2 separate regions of the Homo sapiens genome follow, and region 2 is linked to region 1. The links come from fine-mapping of genetic effects on gene expression. Tissue or cell type: whole blood. Region 1 holds a variant in brackets; the other region holds the start of a gene. All regions are shown on one strand. Distances are from middle to middle.

Region 1 (7,893 bases):
GGGAGAGAAGGAAAGAAAGCAGGAAGAAGGAAGAAAGGAAAATTACCTCAACAAAAAACATCTTTTTCTTATATATAAGTATTTCTTTTATCAAATTGGGAAAGAGGTAACAGTTAATAATAATGAGCATTGGTGAGAATGTTGGAAAGTTAGCATTTTTATACAAGTAAACGTATAGTAGCTGTATAAGTTAAGGAAATTTTATATGTATAAAAACTTAAAATTTGTATACCCTTTCACCCAGCAATTCACTTCAACAAACTTAAAAAAAGAAAAATGATGTCTATATTGGTGTTTATTATAGCATTATTTTTAACAATGAAATAGAAATAATCTGTCCATCAATAGACAATTGGTTACATAAACATTGATACAAACAATGAAATACAGTGTAGCCTTTCAAGACAAACAAGGTAAATGTATTTGTGCTGGCAGCATATTTTAAGTTAAAAAATAGGTTATAGAGCAATATTTATAATTGATCTCGTTTCCATTAAAGAAAAATCATAGGTCTGTATGTATGTGTTTGTGTATAGATATGTATATAAGTAAGGGAGAGAAGTTTTACAAAAGAGATTTTTTTTTATTATTATTATACTTTAAGTTCTAGGGTATATGTGCACAATGTGCAGGTTTGTTACATATGTATACATGTGCCATGTTGGTGTGCTGCACCCACTAACTCGTCATTTACATTGGATATGTCACCTAATGCTATCCCACCCCCTACCCCCACCCCACAACAAGCCCCAGTGTATGGTGTTCCCCACCCTGTGTCCAGGTGTTCTCATTGTTCATTTCCCACCTATGAGTGAGGACAGGCGGTGTTTGGTTTTCTGTCCTTGTGATAGTTTGATGAGAATGATGGTTTCCAGCTTCATCCATGTCCCTACAAAGGACATGAACTCATCCTTTTTTAAGGCTGCATAGTATTCCGTGGTGTATATGTGCCACATTTTCTTAATCCAGTCTATCATTTTTGGACATTTGGGTTGGTTCCAAGTCTTTGCTATTGTGAATAGTGCCGCAATAAACATATGTGTGCATGTGTCTTTATAGCAGCATGATTTATAATCCTTTGGGTATATACCCAGTAATGGGATGGCTGGGTCAAATGGTATTTCTAGTTTTAGATCCTTGAGGAATCGCCACACTGACTTCCACAATGGTTGAACTAGTTTACAGCCTTACCATACTGTAAAAGTGTTCCTATTTCTCCACATCCTCTCCAGCATCTGTTGTTTCCTGACTTTTTAATGATTGCCATTCTAACTGGTGTGAGACAGTATCTCATTGTGGTTTTGATTTGCATTTCTCTAATGACCAGTGATGATGAGCATCTTTTCATGTGTCTGTTGGCTGCATAAATATCGTTTTTTGTGAAGTGTCTTCATATCCTTCACCCACTTTTTGATGGGGTTGTTTGATTTTTTCTTGTAAATTTGTTTAAGTTCATTGTAGATTCTGGATATTAGCCCTTTGTCAGATGGGTAGATTGCAAAAATTTTCTCCCATTCTGTAGGTTGCCTGCTCACTCTGACGATAGTTTCTTTTGCTGTGCAGAAGCGCTTTAGTTTAGTTAGTTCCCATTTCTCAATTCTTGCTTTTGTTGCCATTGCTTTTGGTGTTTTAGTCATGAAGTCCTTGCCCATGCCTGTGTCCTCAATGGTATTGCCTAGGTTTTCTTCTACAGTTTTTATGGTTTTAGGTCTAACATTTAAGTCTTTAATCCATCTTGAATTAATTTTTCTATAAGATGTAAGGAAGGGATCCAGTTTCAGCTTTCTACATATGACTAGCCAGTTTTCCCAGCACCATTTATTAAATAAGGAATCCTTTCCCCATTTCTTGTTTTTGTCAGGTTTGTCAAAGATCAGATGGTTGTAGATGTGTGGTATTATTTCTGAGGGCTCTGTTCTGTTCCATTGGTCTATACCTCTGTTTTGGTACCAGTACCATGCTGTTTTGGTTACTGTAGCCTTGTAGTGTAGTTTAAAGTCAGGTAGCATGATGCCTCCAGCTTTGTTCATTTGGCTTAGGATTGTCTTGGCAATGCAGGCTGTTTTTTGGTTCCATATGAACTTTAAAGTAGTTTTTTCCACTGAATCTATGAATTACCTTGGGCAGTGTGGCCATTTTCACAATACTGATTCTTCCTGTCCATGAGCATGGAATGTTCTTCCATTTGTTTGTGTCCTCTTTTATTCCTTTGAGCAGTGGTTTGTAGTTCTCTTTGAAGAGGTCCTTCACATCCTTTGTAAGTTGGATTCCTAGGTACTTTATTCTCTTTGTAGCAATTCTGAATGGGAGTTCACTCATGATTTGGCTCTCTCTTTGTCTGTTAATGGTGTATAGGAATGCTTGTGATTTCTGCACATTGATTTTGTATCCAGAGACTTTGCTGAAGTTGCTTATCAGCTTAAGGAGATTTGGGGTTGAGACGATGGGGTTTTCTAAATATACAATCATGTCATCTGCAAACAGGGACAATTTGACTTCCTCTTTTCCTAATTGAATACCCTTTATTTCTTTCTCCTGCCTGATTGCCCTGGCCAGAACTTCCAACACTATGTTGAATAGGAGTGGCGAGAGAGGGCATCCCTGTCTTGTGCCAGTTTTCAAAGGGAATGCTTCCAGTTTTTGCCCATTCAGTATGATACTGGCTGTGGGTTTGTCATAAATCGCTCTTATTATTTTGAGATACGTCCCATCAATACCTAATTTATTGAGAGTTTTTAGCATGAAGGGCTGTTGAATTTTGTCAAAGACCTTTTCGGCATCTGTTGACACAATCATGTGGTTTTTGTCTTTGGTTCTGTTTATATGCTGGATTACGTTTATTGATTTGTGTATGTTGAACCAGCCTTGCATTCCAGGGATGAAACCCACTTGATCATGGTGGATAAGCTTTTTGATGTGCTTCTGGGTTTGGTTTGCCAGTATTTTATTGAAGATTTTTGCATTGATGTTCATCAGGGATATTGGTCTAAAATTATCTTTTGTTGTTGTGACTCTCCCAGTCTTTGGTATCAGGATGATGCTGTCCTCATAAATTGAGTTAGGGAGGATTCCCTCTTTTTCTATTAATTGGAATAGTTTCAGAAGGAATGGAACCAGCTTCTCTTTGCACCTCTGGTAGAATAGGACTGTGAATCCGTCTGGTCCTGGAGTTTTTTTTGGTTGGTAGGCTCTTAATTATTGCCTCAATTTCAGAGTCTGTTCTTGGTCTATTGAGGGATTCAACTTCTTCCTGGTTTAGTCTTGGGAGGGTGCATGTATCCAGGAATTTATCCATTTCTTCTAGATTTTCTAGTTTATTTGCGTAGAGTTGTCTATAATACTCTCTGATGGTAGTTTGTATTTCTGTGGGATCAGTGGTGATATCCCCTTTATCATTTTTTATTGCATCTATTTGATTCTTCTCTCCTTTCTTCATTAGCCTTGCTAGCGGTCTGTCAATTTTGTTGATCTTTTCAAAAAACCAGCTCCTGAATTCATTGATTTTTTGAAGGGTTTTTTGTGTCTCTGTCTCCTTCAGTTGTGCTCTGATCTTAGTTATTTCTTGTCTTTTGCTAGCTTTTGGATGCGTTTGCTCTTGCTTAGCTTGTTCTTTTCATTGTGATGTTAGGGTATCAATTTTAGATCTTTCCTGCTTTCTCTTGTGGGCATTTAGTGCTATAAATTTCCCTCTACACACTGCTTTAAGTGTGTCCCAGAGATTCTGATATGTCCAGGTTGCAGCAGAGAGAGAGGTTTAATCATAGGGCTGCCAAATGAGGAAACAGAATGAAAACTCAAGTCTGTGTCCCTGAGCAGTTTGTGACTAGTGATTTTTAAGGGTTTTGGAGGG[G/A]GCCAGAGTATGGAGAGCATTGATTGGTCGAAGAGTGCAAGGTGAAGTCGTGGTATAGGGAGATGAAGAAACTATATTCTCATGCTGAATTGGTTACTTTGTGGGGATCTTCAAACTGGTTGGTGTCAGCTGTTCTGCTGGAACTCACGATCTGCTTAGGCAATTCTTAAAAGCCTTATGATTCTGATGTCAGAAATCCCATCCACAAGAACAATGGGGATGCAAATGGTCAGTATCTAGTGCTAAGTAACTTTCAGTTACAAGGAAGTGGGTCAAAGTGCTGCCTGACTAATAGTTAACCATACTTCTGTCCAGAATTCTTGTTTAACTCTATAAGGATGGCTTGAGATATAGTATATCTTTTATAATTTACATTTCTCTTTTTCATTATATTAGTTTGCTAGGGCTGCTATAACACAGTTCCACAAACTGGCTGGCTTAAACTGGACATTTATTGTCTCACAGTTCTGGAAGCTGAAAGTCCAAGATGAAGGTGTCCACAGGGTTGATACCTTCTGAGGGCTGCGAGGAAAGAATTTAACACAGACGTCTCTCCTTGGTTTGTAAATGGCTTTCTTTTCCTTATGTGTCTTCACATTGTCTTCACATTCTCTGTCCTTGTTCAGTTAGGACACCTGTCATATTGGATTAGGGTCTACGCTTATGACCTTATTTTAACTTGATTTCCTCTGTAAAGATCCTGCCTCCAAATAAGGATACATTTGGAGATACCAGAAGTTAGAATTCTTGTAAATTTTGTGGGGACCAAAATTCATGTATTTTTGAAATATGAATTAAACCCATAACATGGGTGGAGTTAAGAATCTTGTCATATATTTAAAGGCCATTAGTATTTCTTCCGCTGTTCTTGTCATTTGCCTGTTTTTTTCTAGAGGATTGTTGCCTGACACTGGAAGAAATTAATTTCTGTTCCACACATTTGTATTGCCATCTTTATCATATATTAAATTCCAATATTAGGATGTCTTGTTTGGCCCTTTTTATTCCGTTCCATTGGTCTCTGTCTATACATGTGCCAAGTACATACCACTTTAATTATTAAGGACTTATATTATGTTTTAATATCAAGTAAGGCTAGCCTTTCCTTATTACTCTTCTTTTTTGTTGTTTTTCTGTGTATTCTTGTTTTTTTTCCATACAAGCCTTAGAATCAACTTAGTTTCAGAAAATTTTCTGTGTTTTTCTTGGGGGGCTGTGTGGGATGGTCAGAGAAAGGATTACATTAATTAGTTGGCTTGAGAGAATTGACATCTTCATGGAAACTACTGTCTCAGAATACATTGTCTTTCTATATATTCAAGTCCAGTTTTCCTCAAGAATCATAACATTTTAATCATATAGCTTATATATATATATAGTTTAAGCTTTTCTTTGCTACTGTTATAAATGGAATTTTTCTCTTGAAGAATATCTTCTTACTGGTGGTTGCTTGTACATAAAGACTACTTTCTATACATGGATCTTTATTTCCCATGATCATACTGAATTTTTATATTGGTTGTAGTAATGTTTCAGCTTATTCTCTTGGGTTTTTCCAGGAATACCCACATCTTATCTCCAAATAAAGATGGTTTTCCCTTTTCCTTTCTGATCATTGTACATCACACTGTTTTTGTTTGTTTGTTTGTTTATTTTACTTGCTTTGACTTATACATCTAATACGGTGTTAAATAATAAAGTGGTGGTAGTAGGCCTTTTTCCTTACTGTGGTTGACCAACTTCTATGTTTCCCCGTTAAGATAATAGTGTTGGACTGAAGAAGAATATTTTTATCATCTTGAGGAAATAACCATTGATTCCTATTTTAATATTTTTATCAAAGATGGGTTGAATTGGTTGCATTTTATCAACTTATTCAACAGAAATAGAGGTGACACATAATTTTTCAACTTATAGATTATAAACTACAACATTATTTGTAGTTTATTATAAATTATAATCTATAACTATATTAATATATTTCCTAATATCGAATCATTTTTTCTAATATTGAAGCATCCTTGTATTCCTAGAATAAACTCCACTTGGCCCTACAGGTTGGCTGGACACAGAAGAGCAGTAGCAATCACTGTAGTCTGGTTCTCAGAGACTCCTACTCCTAGGAGAAGGGGAAGAGCACCACATCAAGGGAGCAACCTGTGGGACAAAAGAATTCAGACAACAGGCCTTGAGTCCCAGATCTTTCTGCTGGTGGGAGTTTCTTTCAGCAGAGACATAATTGCAGTGCTAGGCTCAGCAGGAAAAAGTCTGGAGCTGTACCCCAACATTCAGGCAGACTTGGTGCTCTTGGAGGGTCTTGGAGAAGACCTTTCCCACCTTGTCCACCACTGCAGACACAGCTGGGGCTTCTCCCACAGGAGCTCAGTGTGGCTGAACCTATAGACAGCCTTCCTGGAACACTTCAGGGTGACTGCATTGCCGCAGGAGAGGTATCCTCCAGGTTCAGGCTTGCACAAGAGGCAGTCACAATTCCTCTCTCCTTAGAACATCAACATGCCTACAGATAAAAATACCTGAATAGCTGGACCACTGGGATAAGAGTGAGTCTGGGAGTTGGATAGCTTTCTTGCTTGGCCTGGCAAGGAAGCTGAGGTGGCTCTCACTCTTCCCCTTGTTAAGACATCAGTGCATCTAATTGAGAGCTCCCTCAGCCACCTTCATCAAGGCTGGTACCTCTGTCCACCATTGGATATTACATTTACCACCTGCTTTAGCTACAACAGGTTCCTACCCAGGGATACCACTCCTATCCTGAAGCCTGAACCATCAACTCAGTAAATAAAATACTGGGGAGAAATTAAATTAAAAAGTGCACACCACAGGGGAATGAGGTAAGCTTCAAGAGACCTCTGCCATTACAATTCCATAGGAGATAGCAAACTTGCCAACACACTGAGTACATGACTATTACAACCACATCTGAGGAAGCCATCATAGAAAGACTCTCCACAACCAAGGAATTCATAGAGTCTTCACTCCCAAAAGCACAAATAACCAAATTAAGCTATAATAAACATTAAACTCACATTCTTAAGGGGGAAAGAAGAAATTAAAAATGCTGTCAAATAAAAAATAAAGAACAATTAGAAGAAATAGTATACCCAAATGAGAAGGAACCAGAAAAGTAATTCTGGTAATATGACAAAACAGTGTTCTTTAACACCCCCAAAAAAGATCACACGGTCTCTCCAGCAGTGGATCCAAACCAAGATGTAATCTTTGAAATACCAGATAAAGAATTTAGAAGATTATTACACTACTCAAGGAGATACCACAGAAAGGTGAAAACCAACATAATTTTTTTAAAATTCAGGATATGAATGAAAAATTTTCTAGAGAGATATAAAGAAAAATCAATCAGAACTCTGGAAATGAAAGACATGCTTAGGGAACTATAAAATGCCATGGAAAGGTTCAACAATAGACTACAACATGTAGACAAAAGAATTTTAGAGCTCAAAGATAGGCTTTTGATTAATCCAATAAGACAAAGATAAAAAGGAATCAAAAGAAATGAAGAAAGTCTTTAAGAAATATGGGATTATGTAAAACATCCAAACCTAAGAATAATTGGTGTTCCTGAGGAAGAAGAGAAGGCTAGAAGTTTGCAAAACTTATTTGAGGGAATAATTGAGGAAAACATCCCTGGCCTTGCTAGAGATTTAGATATCCAAATACAAGAAGCTCAAAGAACTCCTCGGAAATTTCATTATGAAAAGATCATCACCGAAGCACACAGTTGTCAGGTATCTAAAATCAACTAGAAGGAAAGAATTCTAAGAGCTGTGAGACAAAAGCATCAAATAATCTGTAAGAGAAAACCTATCCGACTAACAGCAGACTTCTCAGCAGAAACCTTATAAGCTAGAAGGGAAATGGGGTCCTATCTTTAGCCTCCTTAAACAGAATAACTGTTAGTCAAGAATTTTGTATCCAGCAAAATGAATAAATCCAGTAAAACTAAAACCTTTCATAAACGAAAGAGAAATGAAGTCATTTTCAGAGAAACACATGCTCAGGGA
Region 2 (6,548 bases), 150 kb after region 1:
CCAAGTTGAATTTAACCAGTGTTGGGTTTTGGCAGGTGAGTAAAACAGAAGATTACAGGGGCCAGAAAATAAATGGGCATTTGCAGTACACTAACTACAATAATGGACCACTCAGTCTAAAGCGGGAAAGGAGAAAAAGAGGACGTGAATGCTTCACAAATGCATGTCTTAAACCCTAAGTGGTCTGTAAACTCAAAAGCAAAAGCCATGAGTTCTATGCTACGTATATATACCTCACCAAAGAGCAATATAGTTAGTAAAAGCCTTTGCTGACTGATTAAATGAGTCTTCTCCATATTCCAGAACTCCAAATGATACAAACTCATCAGATTTAATTTTTTTAAGTAGCTTTCTAAAGATATGGAAAGAAAAATAAATCTATGGTTGAAATGTTTGCGTTCTGAAGAGCAGGTGAATGGGTTCCCATGATACTTCCATATAAACAAAGATTAACTGCAGGACACTAATCAAAAGAGACCACAGCAGTAGAAATTAAACTTAACAACAATTAATTAACTTCATATGGGAAAATAAAACCTAATTACTACAGTGCATCCCCTCCCAGAACAACTTCCCCTACCTCACAGAATGAAAACCACTGCATTTCCAGGCAGTTTCTCAGCAAATACTAACTATGTCAAGAGAACTGGAACTTTGATACTACTGCTAACTACAGCCTATCTTATTAAAGAATTTAAAATAATTCTAGAAAATATGTGACCACCTTTTATGATACTTAATTTATTTAAATTACTTAAAGTCACTCATTTTTGCTACTTTATTCTTTCCCTATTTAGATAATGTCAAGAAAATCCTAGAAAAGACAAAACATACCTTTAATAGGTTAGGTTCAAATAAAACTTATCATGGTTCAAATAAAACTTATCACAATATTTTATACGTATAGATTTTCAACTATATATTTTCAACTATTCTTTTCCCCATGGCCAAAATATATGGTTTAATCAGCTCAATGAAATAAAGAAAAATTGGGTCCAGATAGCATGTTAAGGAAGAAAAAGAGATAAAACTATGATAAGAGAAAAAAGGTTTCGTTCCCAGGCTGTGTTGCTACTCAAGTCACCAAGAGGACAAACCATTAGCAAAGAAATGAAATAACTTCCTTATCTGTAACATGAGAATACTAAAGCAGATACTACTAAAGTTTTCTTTCTATTCCAAAAATTCGATCTCATCTAGTGCTTTAGACTTCACTCTTTCAAACGCCTTTGAGAAGGGAGGGTGCCAAAAGACTCAAACTTTCAATTCATGATATATACTTTCTGTCTCTGGATGACAATTAACAGAAAAATCTAGAAGAAAACAAAGGCAAATATTTCAAAATCAGAAAAACACTAGGTTATCTCTTCCCCATCCTGTGCCACTCTTAGTTCCACATTCACTTCTCTCATAACCATTCTCCTTCATTTCTTTTTTTAAAAGTGAATTGTATTGTATATATTTGATGTTTACAACATAGTATTATGAGATATACACACATAAAATGGTTACAATAGTGAAGCAGATTAATAAGAGTGAAGCAGATTAATATATCTATCATCTCACATAATTACTTTTTGTGTGACAAGAGCAGCTAAAACCTACCTATTTAACAAAAATCCTTAATACAACACAATTTTATTAAGCCTCAGGCCTAGCAGTAGCACCATTTGCCTTTCAGAGAACTATGAGATTAGTGAATCCAGACACAATTTATTTGGGAAAACAGGGGCTAACGGTTTGCTAATTCAAGTCAGAGTTCTTACCTTTATATCCCTATCACCAAATCCAGTGTCAAATACATAGCAGACACCTAATTTAACTCCTCTATATAATTTATTACACCAGTGGTTCTCAAGTGTGGTCATCCAGGGTCTTTCTAGAAACGCAAAATTTCAGGTCCCATCAAGACCTAATGAATCAAACTCTGTAAGTGGGGTACAGCACTCTGTTTTAAAAAGCCCTCCATGTGCGATTCTGATGCACACTCAAGTTTGAGAACCACTGTATTAAACCTCCCAGGAAATAACCTTCTTGTTAATTACAAAAAAAAAAAAAAAAAAAAAGTGCTGATTTTTTTTCTCAGCTGCCATCACTTAAAAGTGCTTGGACTCACATGATGTTGTCAACTACTTAACTTCTGTCTCCAGCGTGCACACAAAATGAACTTTAGTAAAACCTTTGGAGCCTCAGTTCCCTGGTCTGTAAAGTAGGAATGAATACCACACGCTTTCGTGAATAAGATATGGCTTACAGAAAGGCTCCTTTCTTTCCTTTTTCTGTTACCTGTACTAAGTCCCTGCTATTTTACACAGACAATGGTCCTAAAGAAGACACTCTGGCACTCCTCTGAGAAATGTCACCAGTGCCTCCTACACAGAAAAGCTCTCAAATGTGGTTTTCTTATGGAAAATACCACAGGAGGGAAATGAAGAGTTAAGAGTCCTTACAGACTCATATACAGAACAGCAATTCTAAAAAGTAGTGGGAAAAGCAATCATTCAAAATTGTGCATCTCTGTAACTTAAAAAAAAAAATCACCATTAAACAGAACATAGGCAACTTTCTCTTAAGTGTCCAAAATAAATTATTAATGATAACTGGAGATAAATACTACAGATGAGGGATGGTGGGGTGCGGGGGCAGGAGGAATGAAGCTTTTGAAAATGCAAAAGAACTAGAATATATGACCCATATTAAAGTGGTACAGACCTTCAAATTCCAATCCCCTAGATTTTTCTGGGGGCAGCCTCACTGTCAAATTCTTTGTCCCAATGTTGCCACACTACGTGTTCTGATTTGGGGTTCAAAAAATATGGTTACCAGGGGAAGCAAAAGCAAAAGCCCATTGCTATGGGTGACACCTAAAAACTGGGGAGTACTACTTTAAAAAAAAAAGTTGAGAACTTTCAGAAGAATTCACTATAAACAATTCCCAATTTTTAGTTCCTCGCTCCCTTTGAATGGAATACTCAAAGGTTTAATTTGACCTCCTTGACAACTAGCCCTTTTTATGGGGATGAAAATAGATCAGTGCATGTGATGTGTCATTACACTCGAATATTTCGCACAGTAACCGCGCCAGAAGCATTCGTTAAATCGGCACTATCAACTTTAATTCTTACTCCTCCCCGCTGCCATCTAAGATAGGACAGCCCTCTATTTTCGCTATTCTGGAGTAGCCAACATTCCAGTCTGCAGGACTGAAGTGAAATTTAATCGTTCGTATCTTTTTAAGGGAACCTTTTTACAGCGAACTTGGAAAAGTAATGCCAGCCATACGTTGAATGACACCATGTTGGGAGTTGTAAAACCACAAACTCAGTGCCTGGCCGTCCGGGAGATGGAATTCCAACAGCGGCTCCTCATTGCACCAAACTAACAATTTCTCTACACGACAGTGCATCTTAATGGGGATGGTTACACACTTTTTAAATAGTCAACACTGTCCCCTCCAACTCCCAGCCGGACATGACACTCCTTCCCCACCCAAGAACTCCAGAGCGAAGGAAGTCTTTTGGCCACCTTAGTGCCTCCTCCCAGCCAGCACCAATGACTGACAGTGTCCCCAGGCGCCCAGCGAGGGTCCCAAGCGAGGCCAGGACCCAAAGGCTGCCCAAGTCTCCGCGTCCCAGGACTTCCTGAAGTCGTAGCCCGGTGCCCCCGCACCCCGCCTCCTCCGACTCCTGCGGCCCGGTTCCTTAGTCCAAACCCGCTGTCCCGGCCCCGCGGCCCGCCAGTCCCCTCGATTCTTCCCCAGACAAACCCGGAACCGGGCGCGGGCTCAGGCCCAAGCCAGGCCGCGGGCTCCCCCAGCGCTCGCCCCACCTCCCGAGCCGCTCCGGGACAGGCGCCCGGGCGCAGACGGGAAAGCGCGGGGGGCCTGGTCCGGGAGCCCACTTCCTGGCCGGGGCAGGGCAGGACTCACCTTCGTACTGCAGATCCACCAGGACTAGCAGGAAGGGGAATACCGAGCCCAGCCGGCTGGTCACGGAGCCGGGGGCCACCATGTCCGAGGGCTCGCGAGTGAAGAGGAGGAAAGGTGTGTGGCCCACCAGCACGCGCCGGCGCTCCGGCAGCAGCTGCGCCCGCCCGCCGTCGGCTCTCGCTCAGGCCTCAGTGGCTCTGGAGCCCAGCAGAGGAAGGCAGCGGTGGGCGGGGCCCGGGCGACGCTACGCCCCAGAGCGCCGCCGCCATCCAATCGCCTTCTTTCTGGCGGCTTTCCTCCCGGGCTCGCCGGGGTCGTGGTTCGCGCTGATAGGCTGCGGAGGCCGCCGCCCCGCCCCGTCCCTGATAGGATAACGTGGAAGCACGAGACGAGGCTGCGCCCGCCGGTCGCAGAGCTGTCAGCAAGCTCCAAACCGCGGCTGCCGCCCGGAGGGAAGCAGACGGGGAGTCGGTGGCGGCCGCCGAGTCCGCATGCGCAGGCTGCAAAGGCCCTTTTGGGCCGGTCCCGCCGCGCTAGGTTGGCGAGTGGGACTATTTGATCCTTTCCAGGTTCGCCAGCGTGGTGTTACGAGAGGAAAGCGCAGCCGCAGCGTACGAATGGGAAGGCCAAACACGGTCCCGGGGAGTCTGAGGGAAGCTGCAGGGCGCCTGGAATTGGGGTCTCGAGTGAGCCGGTAAAAACCGCCTCCCGCTGAGCGTCCCGGAACAAATACTGTCTGAACTGAGCCGTAAGCAAGAAACGGTCAGGAGAAGCTGGGGCGATCTGATGATTAGAACATTTCAGGGACTACCAGAGAGAAGTGCGTAATTGCTCTAAGGCAGGTAGGTAATTGGCCTGGAAACTTGGGAACGCCCCGCCCCCCACCCCGACTTTCAGCAAACCACCGTGCCCAGGAAAAAGAGCGATTGTGGAAGACCCTGTGAAGAAGAGACCAGGAAGGCACTGTGGCTTAAGAGAGCAAGGCGTTCCTGAATGCAGCCAACATCAACTGGTAAACAAAAAACTGTGAGAACGGATCCTGAATCTTGCGCTTACCAGGGGAAATTCAGGAGAGATATGAACCTGAGCAAGATGAGGTTGAAGTTACTCAATGCGGCATTAAGCCTGTTCACGGCCACTTCCTCCGGCGTCACCAACACACACACTGTACACCAGCAGTATTTTTACACGGGGTATGTGTGTTAAGTACTATCAGGTGGATAATTATTACTTCACCTGTATTTGCTGCCTTGATACCATTAGAGAAACTCATGAATTATAAATAGCATAGTGAATTTGTGATTCCCTGAAGATATACTAAGGTGGACTTTTAAAAAGGCTTCTATTCCAAAGGGAACTAATATGGAGGAAATGGTTTCGAGAAAGAAAAAAGAAAAAACGGAGTCCTTGATTAGTTGTGGGGAAGGCAACATAATGTAATGTGAAGAATAAAGGAGTCAGATCCAGGAAACCCCATAACTATTATGTAAGTTATCTTCATCTGTAAAGTGGTTAGGATCCTGATAGTCTCAAAGGTTTGTTTTGAGGTTTCATGAAGCAGATAAATATTCTTGTAAATTGTAGAATGTTATACCAGTGTTACTCATTATTCTAACAAGAGCAGAGTAGTGAAGAGAGGCTCCTTCAGAAATTCCTTGGGATTTTTTTTTTTTTGGCTTCTGTTTTTTTATATCACAAGGTAGTGTCTCTGAAAAATGGTAGATGATTTCAATGTCCACAAATATGCAGGTGTAGACATTCAATTGAGGTACTGTACCCAAGGCAGCCAGCAAAATGCTGAACATAGAAAATAACTTTGTAAACAAAATGCAATATTTCTAGACAGTGAGTTATCACCAGTGTGCTGCCTATGACCCTGGCCTTAAGGAAAAAGTAGCAGAGCTGAAGAAGTTCTAAGGATGGAAATTAAAAATTATTAAGGAGATAATAGACTTCGTGTTATAGGAAATAAAAATAGCAAGGGTCTTCAATGGTGAGTGATTTTGAGATTAATTACATAACTATGAATTCTGTAATATTAGAACTAAGCTTTACAAAGCATTCCTTAAAAAAAGATAATTTTACAACAAAGGTAACATTAGACAGAAAAAAATGTACAAAACTAAAATTAAGTGATTAATGCTTGGGAATGTTTCCTCCAATGTTCATCTAGTCATGGTTTTCACGAATCACTCTTGCCAATAAAACCGAAAATCAAAGTAATCTAGTGAGTGTAAGAAAAGTTACTGTAAATATGTTTGCATTCGTCAGACTCTATGGAGTCTTTTTGAAGTTAAACATTAAATCTCCACTGTAATTCATACTGTTAATTATAGTAGCAAAAGACTTAAAAAACAATGGTAGCATATTTATGATATATCCAAAATTAAGAGTATTATGCAATTTTTATTAGGTTGATCTATGTTTATTGACTAGGAAAAACAATGTTGGTAGAGAGGAGTGAACAGATCTAGAACATATTTTGTAGGTAAAGGGAATAAGATTTGTTTAGGAATTAACTATGAGGAGAAATAAATGTTCAGAAACAAGTAGAGCACTTATAAACACCTTTTTGTGCCAAATTAAGAACAAAAAAGTCAGCATTAAGTTAATGCCACCA

What was found. PIP is the estimated chance that this variant, and not a neighbour inherited with it, causes the effect.
Region 2: it holds the start of DNAJC3, and the variant in region 1 is fine-mapped to the expression of DNAJC3 in whole blood (INTERVAL, PIP 0.99).

What each region holds. Positions count from the first base shown.
Region 1 is chr13:95,823,975-95,831,867 of GRCh38, reverse strand. The region is part of intron 38 of UGGT2 (UDP-glucose glycoprotein glucosyltransferase 2); the gene reads left to right. Among named protein-coding and RNA genes, the nearest start is that of DNAJC3, 150 kb to the right of the region's middle. The variant G/A (reference allele first, on the strand shown) is at 3,851.
Region 2 is chr13:95,674,718-95,681,265 of GRCh38, reverse strand. It overlaps DNAJC3 (DnaJ heat shock protein family (Hsp40) member C3), which reads right to left and starts at 4,127. Exons shown (of 12, transcript NM_006260.5): 1 at 3,929-4,127. The coding sequence starts at 4,010. It overlaps DNAJC3-DT (DNAJC3 divergent transcript), which reads left to right and starts at 4,341. Exons shown (of 2, transcript NR_132117.1): 1 at 4,341-5,414. RefSeq lists silencers at 3,747-3,836, 4,067-4,306 and enhancers at 3,947-3,996, 3,343-4,189, 4,827-4,926, 4,190-5,037.